3 linked regions of the Homo sapiens genome follow. The protein of the gene in region 2 purifies or fractionates together with the protein of the main gene of each other region. This does not show direct contact. Each region holds a gene or a part of one and is shown on either strand. Other genes may lie near its edges.

Region 1 (3,654 bases), on a different chromosome or scaffold from region 2:
AAATACAAAAATTAGCCAGTCTCATAACCCAATCTCAAAACAAAACAAAAATAAATATTATAGAAAGTATCTTCCCCATAACCACCCTAAAACACTCACATACCACTTATACACTATTGATTGATCTCCACCCTCTGCTAGAAAATTCAATGCAAGCTGTGATCTTACCAGCACTGGCAAAAATGAAAGCCTACCACTTCAAAGGGCCTTATTAAGGCCCAAGAGCAGTGAAAGCTCCTAGATAATAGGCATCATGTCATTAGGAAAATAATAAAATCAGAAACCTTGAAAACAACTTCTGCCTCTGCCCCTAATTAGCCAAGTGACCTCAGGAAGGCATTTAATTAAAACTGAGAATAACAATGCTTGCCTTACCTATCTCATAGTGTTATTTGGAGAATTACATAACATATGTAAATTGGCATAACACATTTGCAAGCTATTTTGTATGCTTTGTAAAGGATTTACTGATGTCACCAAAGCCATGAAGTTCATGCCTTTTAAATAATCCAATTCTCAAAAATTTATCCTACGGGAATAATTCAGTAGAAACAAAAATACATATGTGTAAAAATGTTCACTGCACTTTCCCTAATATTCCAAAAAACTGAGAATTAACCCAAATACCCAGCATTAGGAGAAAAAAAAAATACATCTTGAGAAAGATCATACAGCCATGTTGAAAATAAGGAAAAATGTTTATGATACAACGTTAAATGAAAATGGACTCTAAAATACTAAGTATCCTGCGCCTGCAACTATGTAAGAATTACATGTGGAAGATGACAGTGGAGTTAAGGTGATGGGGTTAAAAGAATTCTTTCTTATTATTACTATATCATTTGTCCTTAACGCTTATTTCTAAATTAAAAAATGCTTTTTAAATGAAATTATGAGACTGAAATCACTTTGTTTTGCTTCAAAACACCCCGTTTAGTCCCCTTACCTGAAGTCACCTGCTGTGAACTTGGCTTCAGCTAGTGAAAAGGCAGCTTCTCTCATCACTTCGCCCATCAACATTTTAGTCTGGAAAAGCATAAACCAACAGCAGATTCAACCAAGCCTTTTACAAGGAAATATTCCATCATAATTATGTTCCTTTAATAACCATCAGTATTTTATGCTGGCTGTGCATGTAAATATTGGTTTGATAACGACAAACAGAAATTTCCAATTTTTAACAGTTTTGGTTATGATCACTAACAATATTACAAACTATGAGTTTTATAATTAAAACAGAATAAATGCATTGAGAAACAGAAAACTGAATCTTTACTGAAGGACCTATATTATTCCTGAATGGGTACATGCTGATTTACTCAAACTAATCTCTTAAATTCACTGCAGTTGCAGTCAAAACCCTAATGGTGTATTAATTTTAAAGTACATCTGGAATATTTAATGTTTGAGAATATTCAATAATGTTTCAGAAAGAGAAGAAAAACTGGGTCAGCTGGGTAGGGAGTTGCCTTCCCAAGTATTAAAAAGGTACAGCTACAATAAGGAAATATTAATATATCTGGTTTGGGACAGTTAAGTCAATGAAATAGACTAGAGGATTCAGAAACAACCCCAGGTCTATATGGAAATTTAGTAAAGAGACCACTCTACTGTCTATACAGTACAAAATGATAAAGCTACCTACCTCACATCATACTGCCCCCAAAATTCAGACATAATTAAGATAAAGGTTTAAAGAAAAAAAACTGTAAAGCAACAAAAGAAAATGTGGCATAATATTTTCTTAATCATTTTAGGTCTTTTCTAAGCCTTATATGTAACTCAGAAGCTATATAAAGAAAAAGACCAACAGATTTGACCAAAGGAAAAACATTTTTAACTTTTTATTATTTTTATTTTTTGAGACAAGGTCTTACTTTGTTGCCTGGGCTAGAGTACAGTGGTGTAATCATAGCTCACTGCAGCTTCAAACTCATAGGCTCAGGCAATCCTCCTGCCTCAGGCTCCCAAGTAGCTGGGACTACAGGTGCATGCCACCACACTCTGCTAATTTTCTTCTTCTTCTTCTTCTTTTTTGTAGAGACAAGGTCTCACTGTGTTGCCCAGGCTGGTCTCAAATTCCTGGGCTCAAACCATCCTCCCACCTCGGCCTCCCAAAGTGTTGGGATTACAGGCATGAGTCACCACACCTAGTATTAACTTTTTTTTTTAAGTTAAAAGAAAAGGCGTGGAAAAAATATTTTTAACATTTTACACATTAGGCAGAATACACATAGAACCTCTACCAAAAAAAAAAAGAAGACATTTACCAAGAAAATCAAATTGTCAATAAGCATGAAAAGCTCCTTAACTTCACAAATAATCAAAAGTAGTACAGGGCCAGGCACAGTGGCTAACACCTGTAATCCCAGTGCTTTGGAAGGATGAGGTGGAATGATCACTTGAGCCCAGGTGGTTGAGACCACCCTGGGTAATAAAGCAAGACCCCATCTCCACAAAAAATAAAAAAATAAAAATAAAAACAGCACTCATAGAAAATGCTTTTGTTAAGTACGTACAGGTTTAAAAATAAAACACAAAAACTGTAAACTCAGCACTTTCGGAGGCCAAGATAGAAAGACTGTTTGAGCCCGGGAGTCAAAAAGACTAGCCTGGGCAACATAGTGAGACCTCGTCTCTACTAAAAATAAAAAAAATGAGCTGAGAATGGTAGCATGCACCTGTAGTCACAGCTACTCGAGAGGCTGAGGTGGGAGGATCACTGGAGCCCAGTTTGAGGCTGCAGAGTAAGACCTTGCCTCAAAAAAAAAAAAAAAAGAAAAAGACTAGAAATAAAATGTCATACCATGCGGTAGTACATGCTACAATAAAATTAAAATAAGGAATTGTGAGAGAAGCAAACATGGTGTTCACTTTAGATTGGGTGATCAGGAACAGCCTCTCTTAAGAGACTAGAACAGCTAAAGGAGCCAGTTATAAGTTCTGGGGAAAGAGTATTTCAGGCAGGAGAAAGAGCTAATGAAAAGTACCTGGAGGACCTTAGGAAGAATGCTCTAAATAAGGTAAGAGAGGCAGGCGGGGGGCCAATCAGATCAAGTGGAGCTTTGCAGGCAAGATTAAAGAGTTTGGATTTTATTAAATGAACTATTTGATATTTGACACTTGTTAAACTTATAATGGTATTTTTACTTTTGAAAGAAAAAAATTAATTAAAATAACAACAACAAAAAAAAAAATGCCAAGGGCCATGCTGGATTTTTCTAAAATAAATACTATTCTAAGAAAAGTTCATTCTACCTCTATTATCTTCTTTAGGATCTGTCGAAATCGAAGAGTTAAGGCATCAGATTTTTTCTTCAGGAGGTTTCGACCTGTCTGTGCTCCCTTTAAACGAGCCTTCATGATGGTCTGTGCCCTATATAAACATAAACAAAGTTAAGACATCTATTCTCATTGTTTAAAAGACAAAAAAAACCCTCCCCACCAGTGTTAAAATTATCCTTTATCCTTTGATGTGATGAAAGTGAGACTATATAGAGAATTTGTAGCTGACAGGTTTAACTGATGCTATGGTTTGAATATGTCCCTAATCTTCATGTGTTGGAAACAATCTCCAATGCAACAATGTTGGGAGGTGGGACCATCAAGAGATGACTGGGTCATCTGGGATCTGCCCTCCATGAATGGATTAAC
Region 2 (3,654 bases):
AGCAATCTATATGCAAGATGAGGATGTGCGCACTTGAGACTTTCACTCAGAAATAAGATGATGGAAACTGGCTTTTCTCTATTGCCTGTTTTTCTCTCTCTTCCTAATAGGATGGCGATGTTATAGCCCCACTCATAACACCTCAAAAAAAGGAATGGAACGACAGTACTTCAGTCCAAAATCCAACTCGCCTCCGAGAAGCATCCAAAAGCAGAGTCCAGCTTTTTAAAGATGACCCAATGTGAATGTCTGTAGTCAGTTGTTTACAAACTCCCTCTCCTGCACAATTCATTTAGAGGCTTCAATCATAGAATTCTGCAAATTAATGACAACTCATGCTTTAATTTTGTATTTTGAATGTACACGCATGCTGAAGCTAAGTAACTTTTAATCAAAGAAATAAGATGGTATTAGGCAAATCTTACTATACTATGAAAAGCATTACCTTGCCTATTTTTAATATTATTAAAGCCTTTCTCCTTCAGTAGTCTATTTTCTTAGAATAACAACTCTTTTATCTATTCTGAACTCTATTTTTTTTCTTTTTTAAGAGACAAGGTTTTGCTCTGTTGCCCAGCTTGGACTCGAACTTTCCTGGGCTCAAGCGACCCTCCTGCCTCAGCCCCCCAAGTAGCTGGGACTAAAGTCATGTGCCACCACACCCAGCTTACTCTGAACTTTTATGACAGATGATTGTTTTTTGTTTTTAATGTAGAAATGAGACAAGGGTACAAATTGGAACTAGAAATTGACATTGTCATTGACAAACATGGCTAAAAACAAAACATCAAATCCTGCCCCCGTGAAGAGTTCCCTGTCACCTCAAGTTTGAGGATAGTCCTCTAAGAGTGACCTAAGCATAAGTGAAAGACACCTCCCCTCACCCTTCTAGCCCCCTACAAGGTGCCAGGTTGGGGTAAAGAGTTGGAGATGATGGCCAGGAGTGGCCTCCAACACGCTGGTGAGAGGCCTGATTAGGTTTTGGGGAAGATCTGAGAGCTCTGGCCTCTTCGTGAGTGGAACATAAAGCCGCCTCTTGTTGGGAGATCCTACCCCAGTGACAGAGGAATCCCCCAAACTAGGCTGTGCCCTGGCTCCGTGGCGGCTCCAGACCCGGGTAGTGCCTTTGTCCCCTGAATACTCACTCCCCCGGTCCAGAGGGCCTTCCCACTGCCCAGCCTGGAGAAGGCCTCCCCTGACCTGCTCTCTCAGTATCCTGGAGAGCTGGCCAGAGGCCATCACAGGCATCATCCTCAGAGCTCCTCAGACCTGGGACTTTGTTTTTGCTGGTTCAGTGCATTTTGTGTATTTAAGAGCAAACACTAGCCAGGCGTGGCGGCGTGTGCCTGTAGTCCCAGCTACTTGGGAGGCTGAGGCAGGAGGATTGCTCGAACCTGGGAGGCGGAGGTTGCAGTGAGCCTAGATCACGCCATTGCACTCCAGCCTGGGTGACAGAGTGAGACTCCATCTCCAAAAAAAAAAGCACAAACACTGCACTGCCTGTGCTGAAATTAGTGACCACCCAGTGGGCTCCAGGCTCCGCTAGGTAACTTCGTTTTCCCAGCAGTGGAGTGGGCACCACCTTGGTGGGGCAGTGCCCCTGTGCCCAGGGCACACCTCATTCCCAGTTCTATAGCAATTCACCAAGAACAAAGTCTGCAGTTAGAGCCAAAGCTGGTGGTGGCCAGAGGGTGCTGAAGATACAGGCCAGTGGGGATGGGAGCCATGAGCCCCGAATGTCTTCTGCTCTGATGCTCCCCGGACTAAGCCTCCCTGGCACACTGGGAGTGAGGGGCAGCCTGAGCAAGTAGGGGAACTCAGACCACAGGCCAGCAGATTTCCCAGCAGTCCATCACTGGCCACCGTGTAGCCAGATTCTGTTCCGTCCACACTGGGGTGAAGAGTACTTGGAATGTCTGCCATCCTGTATGATCACCCCACCCCCTGTCCATCCATCAGTAGATAATAAGGGTTGGTTACAATTCATAAGAGAATAGTTAAAACACTTCTCCTCTCATGCCTACCATGGTGCTGTATCAAGGGGATTTGTTCACATATGGGCTCAGCAACGCACAAGTGAGGTCAGCCATGGCACTAGGTCATTCCCATTTTAGCCAAGGTGCCTCTATAGGGGTCAGACATCATGTGCCCAGACCTAAGGTCAGGAATGTCATATTTTTCTGTTAAAATCATTTTATTTCTGTGTATCTTACCTTTAAATCATTGTGGTTTACTCTGAGATTCTGTAGTCCTAATATTGTATCATTGTGCTGTCTGCAAAACAACTTGAATCTATTTTGTTTGCATCTTTTGTTACATGTAACGCAGCTGTACTTTATGTTCTTTGCAACTGTTTCCATTATGAGAACGCTGTGCTATTTACAAGGTTACATTTTTCTTGGCCAGGCGAGGTGGTCATGCCTGTAATCCCAGCACTTTGGGAGGCCAAGGTGGGCGGATCACTTGAGGTAAAGAGTTGAGACCAGCCTGGCTAGCATGGCGAAACCCAGTCTCTACTAAAAATACAAAAATTAGCCGGGTGAAATTAGCCGGGCGTGGTGGTGTGTGCTTGTAATCCCAGCTACTCGGGAGGCTGAGGCAGGAGAATCGCTTGAATCCGGGAGGCAGAGGTTGCAGTGAGCCAAGATCAGGCCACTGCACTCCAGCCTCGGGGTCAAGAGCGAAACTCTGTCTCAAACAAAAAGAAAGAAAGGAAGGAAGGAAGGAGGGAAGGAAGGAAGGAAAGAGAGAAAGAAAAGAAAGAAAGAAAGAAAGAAAGAGAAAGAAATATCTTTGCTATTTGTATAAAAATGGAAATTTTAACAGCTTAGCCTCTAGAGAGTTACTGAACGTGGTTACCTTGGGAATGTAAATAGAACTGCAAATTAAAATGACTGGCCACTTCAACTGGGTAAGGGAAACAGCTGCAATAAAGCTTCGTGAATATATATCTCCATCTTGAAAGTTGTGTTCCACAAAGGTTTCGACCTCTTTGTCCAAAAATGCATATTACTCATTTACTCCTTTCATACCTTCATTGTGAAATTAAATAACAGACTCACAAGCACCTGGCACTGGTGGCAGACAAAAAGGCCTCAACATTCTGCAGCAGGCCAGAGGAGGAACGACGCTGCTACAGTATTTATTAGTTCCAGTGCTCAAGCCCAGGTTTCTAAGGTTTGACAATATTCTGTAAGTTAAAATCATTTCCACACATACAGAGTAGAATCCTGTTTTTGTAAGTATACACACACACACACACACACATTCATGGAACATTGTCTGGAAGGATATACATGAAAATGTTAAGAGTTGGGGGGGGTTGAATTTTAGGCAATTTTAATTTTTTTAACGTCTTCTGGTTTTTCTACAATAAACATGAATCAGTTGTAGAACCTCTAAAATGATAATGTTCATGAGGTTGGTTTTCCTCGTTCAGTAGCTGGCGAGGAACAGCATAGTGAAAAATCTTCCCTTTGCCAGGAGGCAGGCACTAGCGGGGAAGAGATGTGGATTTTTCTGAGTTTTCTAAGACCCTGTTAGCTTAGGGTCTCTGTGCTGCTTGAGTAAGGTGTAAGCGTCTTTTAATCCTTCAAAGTCACCTCTGCAAAAGAGCAGTGCCTGCCCCCACCTGTATCTTGGGTCCCCAGGCCA
Region 3 (2,928 bases), on a different chromosome or scaffold from region 2:
AAATTCAAGGCTGCAGTGAGCTACAATCGTGCCACTGTACCCCAGCCTGGCTGACAGAGCAAGATGCCATCTCAAAAAAAAAATGAAAACCCGGGCACGGTGGCTCACGCCTGTAATCCTAGCACTTTGGGAGGCCGAGGCAGGCGGATCACAAGGTCAGGAGATCAAGACCATCCTGGCTAACACGGTGAAACCCCGTCTCTACTAAAAATACAAAGAATTGGCCAGGCCTGGTGGCACGCACCTGTAGTCCCAGCTACTAGGGAGGCTGAGGCTTGCAGGAGAACCCAGAAGGTTGAACCTGGGAGGCGCAGGTTACATTGAGCCGAGATCGCGCCACTGCACTCCAGCCTGGTAACAGCGCGAGACTGTCAAAAAACAACAAAAAAGCCAGGCGTGGTGGCTTAAGCCTGTAATCCCAGCACTTTGGGAGGCTGAGGCGGGCAGATCATGAGGCCACGAGATCGAGACCAGCCTGACCAACATGGTGAAACCCCATCTCTACTAAAAATACAAAAATTAGCTGGGCATGGTGCCACGCACCTGTAATCCCAGCTACTCAGGAAGCTGAGGCAAGAGAATTGCTTGAACCTGGGAGGCAGAGGTTGCAGTGAGCCGAGATCGTGCCACTGCACTCCAGCCTGGTGACAGAGCGAGACTCTGTCTCAAAAAAAAAAAAAAAAAAAAGACACCTCAAAAACCAAAAACTATCAAGTGTCCTATTCAGTGGCTCTTAGGACACTTGGAGTTGTGCAACCATCACCACTATAAAATTCCAGAACATTCCATCACCCCTAAGAGAAAACTTGTCTCACCACCCTACAACACACACAGCAACCCAGGCAACCACTGATGTGATCTCTGCATCTCCAGAAGCCAGAGCCTGGAAGCAGAAGCGGGGACAGGCGGCGCCTGGCTTCCAGACAGAAGGGCCATGTGGCCAGGAACTGAGCAGGACCCTTGGTCCCCCGGCCGCAAGCTGCTGAATTCCGCCAACGCCTGCGTGAGTTGCAAGCAGATGCCACCCCCGTTGAGCCTCCAGATGACAACACAGCCCTGGCTGACACCTGGGTTCCAGCCCGGTGAGACCCCGCAGAGAGGAGCCAGCCATGTCACATTCAGGCCCCGACCCACAGAACCGGGAGCTGGCGGGTGTTGTATTAAGCCCACAGATGCACGGAGTCTGCTATGCAGTGACAGAAAGCAAGCATGCCAAGTGTGGGGGACACGGGGCCCCCTCCCAGAACAGCACACAGCCTGGCACTGACACGGAACACCCACCTCCAGTGGTTTCTGTAAACACTCGCCCCCTAGTCGGCCAAGGGCTAGGAAAAGAGAGACCTCAGAAGACAAGCCACGAAACGTAAGCCCCGGAGCGCAGCCCCTCCCCTGGTGGGCCCGACTTCCCATCCCTTGACCACATTCCTGCAGCTGTGGTGGGCCCTGGCTGTCGGGTGGAGCAGGCAGCCACTGGGGTGTCCCTGCTTACTCAGTCACAGAGGAGGCCCTGGCTGGAGTGGGGCTGCGGGAAGAGCTGGGATCACTCCCGGGGCTCCTGCTAACATCCCTGACTGCCGGGCAGTGTGCCAAGGCGGCTCTCGGGTGAGAACCTCCCGGCCTGACATCACCAGCACTGTTACCATCCCTGCCGCTGGCACAGGTGAGGACATCCCTGCTGCTGGCACAGGTGAAGACATCCCAGCCACTGGCACAGGTGAGGACGGGAGGCAGTAAAGCCGTTACCATCCCTGCTGCTGGCACAGGTGAGGACAGGAGATAGTAGAGCCATTACCATCCCTGCTGCTGGCACAGGTGGACATGAGGCAGTAGGGCCACTCCACTGGAGAGGAAGGGCTGGTGGGGCCCCCAGCTCTCGGGATCCGCCCATTAGAAGGGAGCCTGCCCTAGGCGGGCAGACAGCACAGCAGAGAGGCAGGCGTGGGGACAGCCAGCCTGCAGGGACTGCTCACAGGGCCCTGGGGGACAGCGCCTCTGGCTCCCACATCTCTGGCATCCACCCCACCTGAACACCCCCAAACCACAGTCTCAGCTGGCCAGCCTTCCCCCACCTGCATCTGCCCCCACAGACTCGCACCGCAGGCCTGAGGTTGGATTACAGGCGTAAGCCACCATGCCCAGCCCACATTTTTTTTTTTTTCAGACAGAGTCTCACTCTGTTGCCCAGGCTGGAGTGCAGTGGCATGATCTCAGCTCACTGCAACCTCCACTTCCCAGGTTCAAGCGATTCTCCTGCCTCAGCCCCCCTAGTAGCTGGGAATACAGGCACATGCCACCACGCCCGGCTAATTTTTGTATTTTCAGTAGAGACGGGGTTCCACCATGTTGGCCAGGCTGGTCTTGGAACTCCTGACCTCAGGTGATCCACCTGCCTCAGCCTCCCAAAGTGCTGGGATTACAGGTGTGAGCCACCGTGCCCAGCCCACATTGCTTAAAAGTATAAATTAGTTGGGCACGGTGGTGTGCACATGTAGTCCCAGCTACTCAGGAGACCAAGGCGAGAGGATCACTTAAGCACAGGAGTTTGAGACCAACGTGGGCAAGATAGAGAGACCCTGTTCCTTTTTTCAAATAAATAAATAATAATAAAATCCTAAAAACCTTACTACCTGTGTGCTCACAGTTATTTCTAGCAGACAGTACTGCCTCAGATGGTGCTGGGGCTAAGCCGCAGATGATCTTAAAATGACTCCAGCCGGGTGATCCTGAACTGCCAGCCTGGACTACACATCCCCGCTGGTATGGACGGCTCCTCCCGCAGACAGGGATGTGTCTCTGGATCATTTCGCAGCCGCGCAGCTGTGGGTGCTACTCCTCGACATGCACTGCCTGGTCCACGCCTCAGCCGCCGGGGCGCCCCACAGATGGGGGACCAGCAGCCAGTGGAACTCCAGGCCAGTGGCCTTGGAG

What was found.
Region 1: the proteins of TLDC2 (region 2) and ATP6V1D purify together in Homo sapiens (affinity purification with mass spectrometry; 2 studies listed by BioGRID and IntAct, with this or other methods). This does not show direct contact.
Region 3: the proteins of TLDC2 (region 2) and ADAT3 purify together in Homo sapiens (affinity purification with mass spectrometry; one large-scale study listed by BioGRID and IntAct). This does not show direct contact.

What each region holds. Positions count from the first base shown.
Region 1 is NC_000014.9:67,349,665-67,353,318, forward strand, and holds part of ATP6V1D (V-type proton ATPase subunit D), read right to left. Parts: intron 3,377-3,654; coding exon 3,259-3,376; intron 1,027-3,258; coding exon 947-1,026; intron 1-946. UniProt on the Homo sapiens protein: Subunit of the V1 complex of vacuolar(H+)-ATPase (V-ATPase), a multisubunit enzyme composed of a peripheral complex (V1) that hydrolyzes ATP and a membrane integral complex (V0) that translocates protons.
Region 2 is NC_000020.11:36,889,523-36,893,176, reverse strand, and holds part of TLDC2 (TLD domain-containing protein 2), read right to left. Parts: intron 3,405-3,654; exon of another isoform or gene 316-3,404; 3' UTR 246-315; coding exon of another isoform or gene 111-245; 3' UTR 1-110. Other genes in the region: deoxynucleoside triphosphate triphosphohydrolase SAMHD1, read left to right, coding at 111-245.
Region 3 is NC_000019.10:1,908,335-1,911,262, reverse strand, and holds part of ADAT3 (probable inactive tRNA-specific adenosine deaminase-like protein 3), read right to left. Parts: intron 1-2,928.